Linked DNA regions of Homo sapiens. The protein of the gene in region 1 interacts with the protein of each later gene in a pairwise test. Each region holds a gene or a part of one and is shown in the gene's direction. Other genes may lie near its edges.

Evidence for each region.
Region 2: the proteins of MIB1 (region 1) and EPB41L4A interact in a two-hybrid assay, tested with the Homo sapiens proteins (one study listed by BioGRID).

What each region holds. Positions count from the first base shown.
Region 1 is NC_000018.10:21,813,783-21,820,811, forward strand, and holds part of MIB1 (E3 ubiquitin-protein ligase MIB1), read left to right. Parts: exon of another isoform or gene 1-113; coding exon of another isoform or gene 114-122; intron 123-1,833; coding exon 1,834-2,031; intron 2,032-3,841; exon of another isoform or gene 3,842-4,046; intron 4,047-5,712; coding exon 5,713-5,864; intron 5,865-7,029. UniProt on the Homo sapiens protein: E3 ubiquitin-protein ligase that mediates ubiquitination of Delta receptors, which act as ligands of Notch proteins.
Region 2 is NC_000005.10:112,409,271-112,416,299, reverse strand, and holds part of EPB41L4A (band 4.1-like protein 4A), read left to right. Parts: intron 1-7,029.

The sequences.
Region 1 (7,029 bases):
GACCCCTTGCAAAACTAGGGAGTCCACCAGGGGCTGGCACAGTGGTATTGGGAATCGGAAACCACTGCTTTGGATGGAGGAAGTCTTAGAGTACCAGGATCAGGGACAGACACATGGTCTTGGTGGGTGTTAAAATTTGCAATGCAGTATTGGAATAAATGCAATACGCTTATACCTACTACCCTTTTCCATCTGCTTCTGGCAAGGCAGTGAGACTTCTTTTCATACTTTTTGGTATAAGCTATGTATACTACCTTCATGGCGCAGTGCAGGCAGTTTTTCCCCTTTATAAAGTACCTTCTTTTAGTTTTAAAAAATTTAAGCAATTTGGTCTTTCCTGCCTTCTCATTTCTTCAGAAATATGCCTGTTACAGGAGGTGAGGCAAATCTATTTGATTCTTCTGAAATAGTTTTGGAATTTTTGATATATGGAATTTTGGTAGTTTATGCTTCGTTTTTATCTTTTAATGGTGTATTTAATTTTTTTTCTGTTCTCGAATATACAGAAAAATGTATGCTCATCACTTAACCAGTTTTAATGTGTTGATAAATTGCTCCCCATTAAAGCCAGTTGAGATCACATTGTTTGGCATTCTTTTTTTTTTTTTCAATCACACAACTCATCTTAGTTTACTTTTTGTGTCATCTTTGTAGGACGTGCACGGTGGCTCACACCTATGATCCCAGCATTTTGTGAGGCTGAAGTTGGAGAATTTATTAAGGCCAGGAGTTAAAGGCTGCAGTGAGCTATGACTGCCACTGCATTCCAGCCTGGGTGACAGAACAGGACCCTGATTCTTTTTTTATTGAGAGGCAGTCTTGCTCTGTCGCTCAGGCTTGGAGTGCAGTGGCCCGATCTCAGCTCACTGCAACCTCTGCCTCCCGGATTCAAGCAGTTCTCCTCCCTCAGCCTCCCGGGTAGCTGGGATTACAGGCATGTGCCACCATGTCTGGCTAATGTTTGTAATTTTAGTAGAGACGGGTTTTCTCCGTGTTGGCCAGGCTGGTCTTGAACTCCTAACTTCAGGTGATCCGCCCGCCTTGGCCTCCCAAAGTGCTGGGATTACAGGTGTGAGCCACTGCGCCTGGCCTAGGACCCTGATTCTTTAAAAACAACAACAACAACAACAACAAAAATGGTCTTTGTAAAAATTTTTAAATGTCAAAAAAAATTGGCTTACCATCATGGCTGATAAATGAGGAATGCTGAAAGTTCAAGCTGTTGGTTTTATATATATATATATATATATATATATATATATATATATATATATAAAATTATATATAAATGTATATATATAAATAAATAAATACATATATATAAAATGATCTAAGTTTATCATTTATCTTTGGGAGTTAGTCACTGTTCAAGTCAGTTTCTAGGTTTTAAAAAATTTTTTTATAGAGACAGGGTCTCACTCTGTTGCCCCGGTCAGAGTGCAGTGGTGCGATCATAGCTCACTGTAACTTGAAACTCCTTGGCTCAAGCAATCCTCCTGTGTCAGCCTCCCAAGTAGCTGGGACTACAGGTGGGTGCCACCATGCCTGGCTCTCTCTACAAGACAGGATCTTGCTATGTTGCCCAGATTGGTATTGTTGGAAATCTTACTCACATTTACAGTTTACTTGGCCTCAAGTGATCCTTCTGCCTTGTCCTCCCAAAGTGCTGGGATTACAGGCATGAGCCACTGCACCTGGTCAAGTTCTAGTTATTTTGTTGTTTCCTACATTGCCTTTTCTCAAATTAATCTGCTTCTTGGTATATTATTATAGCTTCAAGGTTTTTTTCTTTCTAAAATATTCACTAATTCACATTTCAATACTAATGATTAGGATAAAGATGGTGATAGAGCAGTTCACCATGCAGCTTTTGGAGATGAAGGCGCTGTTATAGAAGTACTACATCGAGGTAGTGCTGATTTGAATGCTCGAAACAAGCGCCGACAGACACCACTTCATATTGCTGTCAATAAAGGTCATCTTCAAGTTGTGAAGACTTTATTGGACTTTGGCTGTCATCCCAGTCTCCAGGTAAAACCTTTAAAGAAACACATCCTGCAGGTATTGCTAGGATCCTATTAAAGGGAAACATTAAGTTCTATGGTAAGCATTCCTTTGTTACCGTTCTCATATGTCATAGTAAATGATACCAAAGGCGTAAGATGTTACAAAATTGGCAGCTATTTCTTTTTTAAAAAGTTGTTTTTTTTTAGGGAAAATGCCAATAGATTGGGTTTTGATTGGGCAGGGAGAATGAGGACTTCTTTGTAAAAATATCAGCTTATGAATGGATTTAACTTTATTGATCATGACAGTGAGCTCAACAGCTTAAAGAAGTGTAATAGGCTATATTTCATAATAGTTACTTCATAACTATTTAAATTATTTTAATTGTAGCTTTTATTGTAGCTTAGGGACTTTGAATAGTCGTTAGTGTAATCTTCGGAGATTTCTGTTTTGGAAAATGTATAGGATTTTAGAGTTGATTTACAGTAGGATCTAATTTTTGAAGCAATGATTGCCTAAGAAATGATTATCCCCAGCTACAGTTTTATAACCAGATAAATTAAACCACAAATATATAGAAAATGTAGTCTGTGTCCATTTTCTGCTTAGTTTGGTTACTAAGCAACTTGTCTTTTGTGCACCTGTTTGATTAAAGTTTCTATACTTAGTAATTTTGTAGCTCCTGAATCTAATTTGCCAACTTTTAGGTTCCTTAACCGAATAGGCTTGAAACAACATATTATTTTTAAATAAAAGTGTTCCCTGAAATACTATTTGAATATGTAAAACATAATTTGTTTCCATTGGAAACTCAATAATGATTTTTTAAAAAGTAGGGCAGTGGTTAGAATCATAAGCTGCTTGTAGTTTAGATAATTTACAGCATCCAGGAATTGGTTGCTGGATTGGATAGATCTCAGAGAAGAAATAAAGAACAGTAGTAGTGGGAATGAGGGCTTGAGAAGAACTGAAAGAATAGATTTTGTTCAGCTAGATAATTATTAGAAATTAAGGTTTTTGAAGTGCAGCTGTTTTGGAACTGTTGGGATCTAGAGTATGTCCTTGTAAGTGGGAGGCAGGATTGGAGGATGAGGGAAGAATTGGGGGGGTGTTAATCTGTAAGGAGAGGTGATTTATACCTGCTGACGTTTTTTGTCTGAAATGGGAGACAAGTTCATCTGTTGAGAGTGGTGGGTAGAGAAAGAGTAATTGAGAAGAGTGATAAGGACTTGGGGACCTGCAGAAGGGTGTTCCAATCATGTTAGAAGCCCGTTTCAGGTTGAACACTACAGATTTTTAGTGCCGCCAGATACAGGAGTAGAAGGTAGATGGTAGATGGTTGGATTGAACTTGGGTTAGGAATTCTTTTTTTTTTTTTTTTTTTTTTTTTGAGGCAGGGTCTTGCTCTGTTGCCCAGGCTGGAATTCAGTGGCGTGATCATGGCTCATTGCAGTCTCAACCTTCAGGGCCCACCTCAGCCTCCCGAGTAGCTGGGACTACAGGTGTGAGCTGCCATGCCTGGCTAATTTTTTGTAGAAATGCCCAGGTTGGTCTCAAACTTCTGGTCTCAAGCAATCTTCCTGCTCCCACCTCCCAAAGTCCTGGGATTACCGGTGTGAGCCACCATGCCTAGCAGGAATTCTTTATGTAGGTGGATGAATATATTCCTGGGATTAGCAAACATTTTCTATATTGGGCACAGATAATAGTGGCTTATTGGCTTTTGCCACAACTATCTAACTCTCATTGCAGAATGAAAGCAGCCATAGATAATACATAAATGAATGGGTGTGGCTGTGTTCCAATAAAACTTAATTTACAAAAACAGGTGGCTCCAATGTGTAATATCCTGGGATATCATTTTTTCTAGGCTTTGTCCACATGGCTTAGGGGAGCATAGGGCTCTGCCCCATGATGTACAGTCCCTTTCCTCAGTGTTGGAGATGAAGCTGGGTCTGGTGTTTGCACTTTCATATTCCTGTAGCTTCTCAGAATCCTGTGGACAGTGACTGGGGAGACAAACCATGCAGGAAATATGTCTAGTAAAAAAGAATAAAACAAACAAAAAACAAGTGGCAAACTGAATTTGGCAACTGTAGTATATGCTGTAGGCCAGGTTGTATATGACTTTACTGAGAATAGCATCTGTTCAACTATGAAATGAATGAAATTTAAATTATTCATGTCTGTACATGACTGCTAATGAATAAAAACTTACTGCTAAGTCAATTGATTAATGTAAAAAGTAGTCAGCTTGAAAAAATGGTAGACTGAGATTGCTAAATTTTAATTTACAATTGTTTTACCTTTGGCTAACTAGCCACTTTGCTGCCCTTTGAAAACGCTTAGATTAATGTTTCTCACCTGTGACTGCACAAGATGTTCATCTGTGGAGCTTTGAAAAATTACTCATGCCTCACTCTCACCTCTAGAGATTTAGTATGGTGAACAGCCTGGACATCAGATTTTTTTTTCTCTTTTTTTTCCTCTGTACAACAGATTTTAAAAGATCTCCCCAGCAGGTTCTAATGAGCAGCCAAGTTTGAAAGCCACCGACTTTCAATTCATTGTTATGGTGTAGGTTTGGTATGGAATTTCAGGGTATGACAATTAAGGCCATTTTAAACTTATAAAATTTGGGGGGCAGCTTTATCACTTCACTGGTTTTTGTCATTAGTTATATTTGAGGCTACTTCTTTTCTTTTCTTTTTGCTTTGTAAAGCTTCAGCATGTGCCAGGAGTGGTGGCTTATGCCTGTAATCCCAACACCTTGAGAGGCTCATGTGGGAGGATCACTTGAGCACAGGAGTTCAAGACCAGCATGGGCAACATACTGAGACCCCCATCTCTACAAAAAAAGAACTTTGCCGGGCAAGGTGGCTCACGCCTGTAATCCCAGCACTGTGGGAGGCTGAGGTGGGCAGATCACGAGGTCAGGAGTCTGAGACCAGCCTGGCCAACGTGGTGAAACCCCGTCTCTACTAAAAATACAAAAATTAGCTGGGCATGGTGGTGGGTGCCTGTAATCCCAGTTACTTGGGAGGCTGAGGCAGGAGAATCGCTTGAAACCGGAAAGTGGAGGTTGCAGTGAGCTGAGATCGCGCTATTGTACTCCAGCCTGAGTGAAAGAGCGAAACTTGGTCTCAAAAAAAAGAAAAAAAAATTCCAGCATGCTTATTTTGTTTTCCAACTAGATTTGAGTATGTCTTTCCTTACTATAATGTGGCCAGTGTTTCTTGCCTGTATTTTTGTTTTTTATATTTTTGGAGATAGAGTCTCGCTCTGTCACCCTGGCTGGAGTGCAGTGGCATGATCATAGCTCACTGGAGCCTTGAACTCCTGGGCTCAAGCCATTCTTCTGCCTCAGCCTCCTGAGTACCTAGGACTATAGGTGCACACCGCCGTGCCCGGCTAATTTTTAAAATTTTTTGTAGGGACAAGGTCTCTATATGTTGCCCAGGTTGGTGTTGAACTCCTGGCCTCTGCTGATCCTCCCGCCTCAGCCTCCCAAAGTGCTAGGGTTACAGACATGAGCCAGCATGCCCAGCCTTTGCCTATATTTTTGTAGTTATCACAGAAAGTGCTCTTTTATTGGTATTTGTTGGATGTGGTCTCTGCTTCTGTTTGCTTAGCATTTGGTGTAAGTATTACTATTAGATGGGATAATTAATTGAAGAACTAATGAAAATTTCTTTAAACTTAAAGGATTCTGAAGGTGATACCCCTCTTCATGATGCAATAAGTAAGAAACGTGATGATATCCTAGCAGTTCTTTTGGAAGCTGGAGCAGATGTTACCATCACAAACAATAATGGATTTAATGCTCTGCATCATGCTGCACTAAGGGGAAATCCCAGGTATGTCACCCCTTACTATTTTAGGTGCAATTCAAAAATATTTTCCTACTGTTGATTCTCTTTTTCTGATACTGATGAAGAAATAATTTTGGCTATTTTAGTATTTTAAATCATTTTAAAGTTTTGTGAATATTATGCCTTTAGTTTTATATGATGATTATTTGGTTGTTAATCTAATACAAATATTATGAAATGATTATTTAAGTTTATATTAAATGTGGTTGTAAAATATCAGGAATACTAGTTTCTTTCTAAAGATTTAATTAAAATGCATTTTATTTTGAGATTTATGTTTCTTCAAAATAATTATCTGGGTGTCCTCTAATTTCATGTTGCCATTTGCACGATAATTATTTTTTAAAACTTAAGACTAAATAAATACTAAGTTACCTAATTCCTTATTAATAATGTAATTAGTTATATAAACTTCTAGTATAGCTATCCCCTCATCCATTGTTACAGCAATAGTATTCTACTGAAAAAAGTATTTGCTGGTTGACATTTGAGAAAGACTCCTTTTGGAGAATCACATTCTTTATGAAGGATCTGCGGTGTCCCACAGAATGGGAAAATGCTTAGCTTTGCTTAATTTAGAGATTTCCATTAACTCACTTTTTGGAACAACTTTACCCTAAGCATTTTAGGAAATTCTGCATTGGATGTCTTCTGTTTATGTTTGAGTCAAACCTGTATACCTGGACTAAGAAAAATCTTCACTTTGATTTTTATTTTGATAATTTTATCTATTCTGAACACTTATTCTTTGGTTCCTTATTGTATTTTTATATCATGTTTCCTTTAGCTTCTTAGGATCACCACTAGAGGGTGACCACAGGAAACAAAAGGATTTTATTGCTACTGCTTATTGGTAACTGTAACAGTGGGTATATATTGTAGGACAAAATGAATGATCATATTTTAGATCACATCTTGATTTTTTTTCCAAATTGCAAATATTTGAACACTTCAGATTTTGGCATTGTGAAGAAGACAGTAGTATTATATTTCCCTGCCCTTCAAACAGAAGATTATGATAGCACTTTCCACATGCCAGCCTCTGCAAAGTGCTTCACATGCATCATCTCACTTAATCCTTTCAACAGCTTTTTGGGGCAGGTGTTAATATCCTCATTTTACACGTGAAGAATATGAGGCTTATAGAGAT
Region 2 (7,029 bases), on another chromosome or scaffold:
TATAGCAAGTTAAGGTGGAAGAAATATGAGAGAATCTTGGTAAACATTTTTTCTGTGTATCATTTTGAAAAACATTCTTTGGATTTATTTAAGCACCAAATTACAAATAGAAAAGTTAGTTTTGAAGTGATTTTTCTTCAACTTAGATAAAGTTTTTCATCGATGTTAGAAAAAAAATTAATGTGTCATCATGAAAAGTGTTTCAGCCTGAAGACAACAGTTACTCATCTTATATGGTAAGATGAATATCAGTTAAATGGAAAATAATTTTATTTCCATTTAATTTCCATTTAAATGGAAAATAATTTTCTGTTAAAAAAAAAATACCAGAAAAATAAAACACAGTATCTTTGCATCCCTGTTAATGTTACGGAGGTATTTGCCTTTTTTACTTGCTTTAGGGGCAACCTCACCTTGATAGCAGAAAGTCTTATTCATGCAGTTCACAGTTTGAACCTTATCCGAGATTTAAAAACTCAAGTTTACATAAGCTGAGAGCTATTGGTTGTGTGTTGAGCCCTACAATAGCTTTTAGCTGTTTGTCTTTTGCTGCTATCTGTTGTTTATTCAAGTAAGGATATTTGGTATGGTTGGTCTCAGTTGTTTGAGTAATGTTCTGGGAAACTTTTGTTGTATCCTTTCTAGTTCTCTGTGCTGAGGGAGGTAGATAACTTTCTTTTTGTTCTCTTAGCAAAACTTGAATGTGGCTCAGACTGCTTTTCTAGTTTTTCATTTGGTTAGCAAAACATTTTCAGGAAAACAAAAGTCACAAGATTTGATTATAAATTTAATTCTCAAAATTGCTGCTACAAATATGAAATAGATTAGTATTTTCATTTTGGCAAGATTTTAATCCTCTGAGTAGCATGATGAATGTTTAGGTGCTCATTTTTCCCTATGAGTATTGACTAAACTAATGAAACCAATATGGCAGTAAGATGAAAATTCCATTACCTTCTTTTAAATGGCTTTGTTAAGGTATACCATACATTTCGCCCAGTTAAAGTGTATAGTTCATCCATTAACTACTAAATAATGTTACTTCCCAATCATCCTGAGATTCCTGAGGGAATACTGTGAGTCAGTTTTGATGCTTTTGGTTAGAAATTTCCTAATAAGCTAGGAAAACAAGCATAAGGCGAGGGCTTAAATTTTATGCATCTCACTTACCAAAAATTACAATTTTCATTCAATTTGGACTAATAAATAAAATATCCCAGAAGATTGGGAAAAAATGAAAAGCAATAGTTTCACAAATTATATTAAGTTTATATGTGAATACTCATATCTTTTGGTATCAGCTACTTAAGGTACAGAGTCAGGAACCATATAAACGTAGGTAGAAGCAAGTAATCACACACAAACGTAAGATTCACTGTGGTCTTGATTGGGTATTAAATTAGATGTGACTGGGCTAGAAAGTGTCTCTCCTGCATAACTACATCCAGTTTTCTAAAATTCAAAAGTGATATCCAGGTTGTGGCCGCATAAGATGAACTGTGTATAAATAGCCCCTCAATTTTACAAGAAGTCTTTTTCTTGAAAAAAATTATTAAAAATACCTTTTATCATCCATGACTTGAATGTGATTTAATAACTGTTTAAGGGGGAAAGCATTGTTGGTTACCTCCAACAGCTTTTGGCTGTCCCTCCCTAGGTGCTTCTGGTATTCTTGGTTGATAGTGAACTACACTTTTTGCAGTCCAGTTACTGTGTGTGTTCTTGAATTCTGTATTGGTAAGCTTGAACTATCTTGAACTCCCTGTGGGAGTTTATCCTGTCCCTTGTAGGATACTTAGCAGCATTCCCTGCCTCCTCTCACCAGATGTGTGGCACCTCTTTTCCAATAATGACAACCAAAAATCTCCCCAGATGTTGCCAGATCTTCCCTGATGGGCATAATCACCCTCCGTTGAGAACCACTCTCATAGAGGATAGCAGCTTCCTTTGTTCTTATGTCTTTGTTGCACAGTTTCAATATTGAATGCGGGGTAACTTTTAGATGCCTTCTATTTTTTCTTTTTTCCCCCTCTTTTGGAATGGTGAGTTGTTTACCCTCATATTCAGTGAAAACAATATGTTATCTTTATCTTGCTTCATATTCAAGTATCTTTACACGTGCTTCATATCTTTATACACAAAACAATACCTGCAGTGATTAAAAGCATAGGCTCTAAAGTCAGATTACCTGGGTTTAAATTTTGGCACCGCTAATTACTTACTAGCCGAGTCGTTTCTGAGTTTCAGTTTCCCCATCTGTAAAATGAAGAGAAATGATGTACAGTATTCACCTTCTACATTCATGCTGTCTTGCACATGATAAGCACCCAGCAAATTTTAACTTTATTCCACCTTTCCTCCTCTTCTCCTTGTTGTAGTGGCTCATTCCTTCCTAGAGATAAAGTCCAAGCTTCATTGTTTGACTTAGCACCCTACCTGATCTAGCCCTGCCAGTCCAAGTGACTTGCCCTCTAGGTATGCAGAAACTGCTCACGGTTTCCCAAATATTCCAGATTGTTTTGAGACTTTATGCATGAGATTCCTGCTGATTGGTGTACCATTTTGTTTCTCCATAAACACATACTTATCGGAAGCATCCTTGAATCAAGTGTCCCATCTGCTAGGCAGCCTTCACTTCTGCCTGACCAAGCGGAGGTAGGTGCCTATTTGTGCCTCACACATCCCTGTTACAGCATCTGTCACACTGCATGCATTATTTCTGGACACATCTGTCTCCTCCAGCAGCCTGTGAGCTGCTACCTGTGATCCCCAGGAGTCAGAGCTGTATACTTCATGTGGTAGATGCTTATTAACTATAATTTGATAGAAGAATGAGTGGAGTGTTACAGCTGGAATAGGCTGTATTGAAAATCTTCTAGATAATGGAGTTCCTTTGCTATTTTATTTTTACTAGAAAAGACCCTAGAATAAAGTGAATCCCACTGTGAAAAATCTGTTGTCAAGATACTCTAATTTTTGTATTGATAATGGGTAGAAAATGAGACGGTGCAGTGGACTGAATGCATGCAGTACATTGAAAAGCTGACTAGCAGCTATTTCAGAAAACATGAATCACACCGTTTTTGTATTTTGTAAGTACCAAATCTTTCTCTTCTAAATTTAATGCTCCCCTTCCAACCTGAGTCTTTCCGAAGAAGAGCATATTTCCCAAATGGAAAATAGATCCTCATACTTTAGTGACTTTTCTTCCTTGTCTCCCATTCTTGAAACTGAGAACCATGTTGGTTGGTTTCACAGTGGGGGTTTATGCTATTGTGAACCAGCACTGTAATTTTTAATCTTGCTGAATCACCTGTGTGTTACTCTTGAAGCTGTTTAAACCTAATCTGACACTGCTCTAAGGCTTACTGGAAAAGATGGTGTAAATACATTAAATATTGGGTTTTTATGAAAAAATTATATTTTTCATTCTGATGCAAAGTGTGTTTGTCTGCAGGCCTGTTGTAAACATGACAAGTCAGAGATCAAACTGGCTGCATCTACGGCTCCTGCCTCTCTGAGATTGACTGCTTTGGTTCAGCTTTATCTCTGACAATTTTAATCACATCTGAAGCTCCTGCATATTGCTCCTGGTCATCCTGCTTTGGGTTGTGATGACTAACCACCGTTTGTTTCTGCACCATAAGTTTTGTTTCCACGTTTCATATGTTAAGATTAAACAGGCACCTGTTATCACATGTCCTGGGCATAGACTCAGTGTGCTAAATTCAGGAACCAGTCAGTTTACTTTGTGACTCAAAAACCTTGTAAGTACAATTTAGAGTGTCTATACCATTGTAAAAAATGTGATTGCATTCCTGTGTCCTCTGAGCCATGCATGTATTTCCTGTGTTCTTTTTTAAGTGAAATAGTCATTATGTCTTAATGCTGCGTATTGTGAATCCCTTTCTCTATAACTACACACTCTTGCAAAGAGATTCATCAAGGTCTGGAATAGTTCCTTCGGAGGCTGTCTTAATGATCGCTGAAGACATAAAGGGCCTGCAGCCCTTCCAAAATGTGTGAGAAGTTTGTTTTCCAGCACAGGATATTGACATGCCAAGAGGAAGTTAGAACAAGAGAGATGGGGACAGGCAGGGAAAACAGAGAAGTGCTGAGCGATAGCTCACACAGACAATAACCAAAAGGTCAGATGGCAAAGGAGGAATTGGTGGACCGAGACTGCAGAGGGAACCATGTGCTGCAGTGTATTGTTTAGGAACGACACCTTCTGAGCCCTCGGGAAAGCGCATTTAGTAATGTGGAGTCCTCATCTTGAGGGGGACTATGTTTCAGCGGTTGGTTAGAAAGTGCTTTGTTTAGAGAACAGTGGGGGCCGTGAGTGAGGGTCAGGTTGCTGAGCTAGCCCAGAGAGACTATTTGAGTTGTTAAATCACTCAGGTTCCACCTTGACCTTCATCAGACCTGTGTTTGAGAAGCAGGCTTGGAACCTCTGCTGCCTTAATTGCGACTTGTCGAAATTGGTTTTTCTCTGCCATCCTCGCTGCTCCTGACTTAGTTTGGCCCTTTCACCTGGGCCAGCCTCCTAATGGGAGTGCTGTATGGTCACCATCAGTCTTTCCCCTCCCTGCTCCCTGTCCTGTGTTCAATCAAATCCTTGTCTGCCTTGTAATTACTGGCTTTGTGATTGGACAAGTGATTTTTTTTTTTTTTGCCAGCCCCAGTTTCCTTATCTGTAAGCTGAGGGGCATGATATCTGCCTCATAGGATGACTGTGAGAATTTGAGGAAAGAATTTTAGGTACATAGGATAAAAGGTGCTCAATAAATGATAGCTATTAGTATGTATGATATATTATTTGCAAATACATTTATTTCTGAATTTCAGTTTGGGATATCGAATCTCTGCCACCCCTGCCTAAGGTTGCACAGGTTCTCCGAGGGGTATGAGTGGTTGTTAGAAGTGGGAGAGCAGTGGTGATTTGATATTCATATATATTTGTCAGATCTGTCTGTAGGAGAAATAGTATCATGTTCCATTTGTGCATCTACTCACATTGCCTCAACCACCACTAGAATGCTGAAACTCCACATCTGTACCTGTAGTCCCAACTTCCTTATTTTCTGGATTCTGATCACTTACTAGATTCTGCACTAGATGCCTAAGCCAGCCATCACTACCCTCCTCCAGACCTGCTTATCTTCCTGTGCTTCCAAGTTTGATGAATGATCTCACACTCTATCAGTAAAGATGCTTTGGTCACCAGTTATGGAGATACCATTGCAAACTACTTGAACATGAGGAAGTTTATTAGCTCACCTATCAGGGAATCCAGGGGCAAGGAAAGGAGGTTCAGGGCGGGTCAGTGACATCAAGGTCCCAGCTTCTCTCATTTCATCCTTGCTCTGCTATCTTGGAGCCAGTGCCATCCTCAGGTGGTAGCAATGGCCAAATTCTAGAGATGAAGAGGTGATATTTGTATATGGCAATATGTAGGATAGTAATAGAGACAGTCTTTTCTAGGAGAAAGGCTTTCTCCTGAAGTCCTCCAGCAGACTTCCCTTGAGTCTTTTAGCTAGAATGAGTCTCATGGCCATTCTTGGGCGATAAGGGCAATGGGATCACCTGTAGAAGAATAAAGGGTCTTTCCTGAAGCTGGGTGGGAGTGGGGTCAGTTTCCCTGAGGCCAGTGGCTACATGGGGGAGGGGCTCAGGAAGGAAGGAGGAGAGTTGTGGGTACTGTTGTCACCATCAGTGTCCAGTCTACCTCTTGGGTCAGGATCCTTAAGTTTCCACATCCTTCCAGGTCTTGGAATTCCCACCTCCTAAACATCTTCCAAATTGTTTCTTTTCCCCTGTTTTCATTGCTGCTGCACTTCAGGCCCTTCTCAGTTCTCAGCTGGACAATTTGCAGGGCCTCCTAATCCCTGCAAGGCCCCTGCTTCCAGCATTAACCACCTGCATCTAGAGTGCTCTTTCTTGCCTCCTGCCTAGAATACTTTAATGTCTAGTCAGCCTCTGTGCTTGGGTTAAATTCCTAGCTGCGAGTGGCAGTCATTTTCAAGTCCCAACCTCCTTTCTATTCTTTCTCCCACCATCTCCTCATACTTGTCTGATACTCTAGCCAGATGGAGCTGCTTCCTAGTCTCTGAATTTTCCACATTCCCTCTCACCTTTTTCTGTGTGTAGAAAGCCCCACCCACCTCCTTTTGTTTGAGTGATGTATCAGCTCTCATGAAGGAGAGTTCTGCCTAGGTTTCACTTTTTTGTGAAGACTTCTCCTTGATGCGGAGCTGGAGAGGCCCTCTTCTGACCCTAATCCAGACTGCATTTCATTGCAGTAGTTTTTGTACTTTCCTGCTCACCTTGACCTGGGAGGAATACAGTGAGGTGAAGAGGGCATAGGCTTTTGTCATAGACAAATCTGGCTTCGAGTCTCCCTCCTGTTGGTTAGTGCTGTGAACATGGCCAAATCACTTACCCTCTTTGAGTTGGCTTTCTCATCAGTAATAAGGGTAAGGCTGTCCACCTCATCATGGGATGCTATACATGAAACCCTTAGCTCCTTTCCCGGTGAGTGGTAGCAGCTGTTAGTAGGGATGGAAAGCCTTGAGGGAGAGAACTAGGTCTTTTTTATGGGATTCCCAGTCAAGCCTAGTTCCTAAAGAGTAGTAGGCATCAATGAATAAATGTTGAATTAATCTGAATAAGAAAAAGTATCTTTACGTTGACATAATCTGAGAAAGAGAAGGCATCTCTCTCCTTTCCGTTTTCTAGGTGTTCTTGGTATAACTGCTTGACTCCTCAATTTCTTATTTAATTTTTGAAAACTGCTTTATTGAGATATAAATTGTATACTGTACAACTTACCCATTTAAATTGTCCAATTCAGTGGTTGTTCATATATTTACGGAATTGTGCAGCCATCACCACAATCAATTTTATAAGATTTTCGTCCCTGCAGAAAGAAACTGAAAACCACTCTTCACTTCCTTCCAGCCTTCCATCCCCTGCCCCCACCACTGTGTAACCACTAATCTTTCTGTCTCTATAGTTTTGTGTATTCGG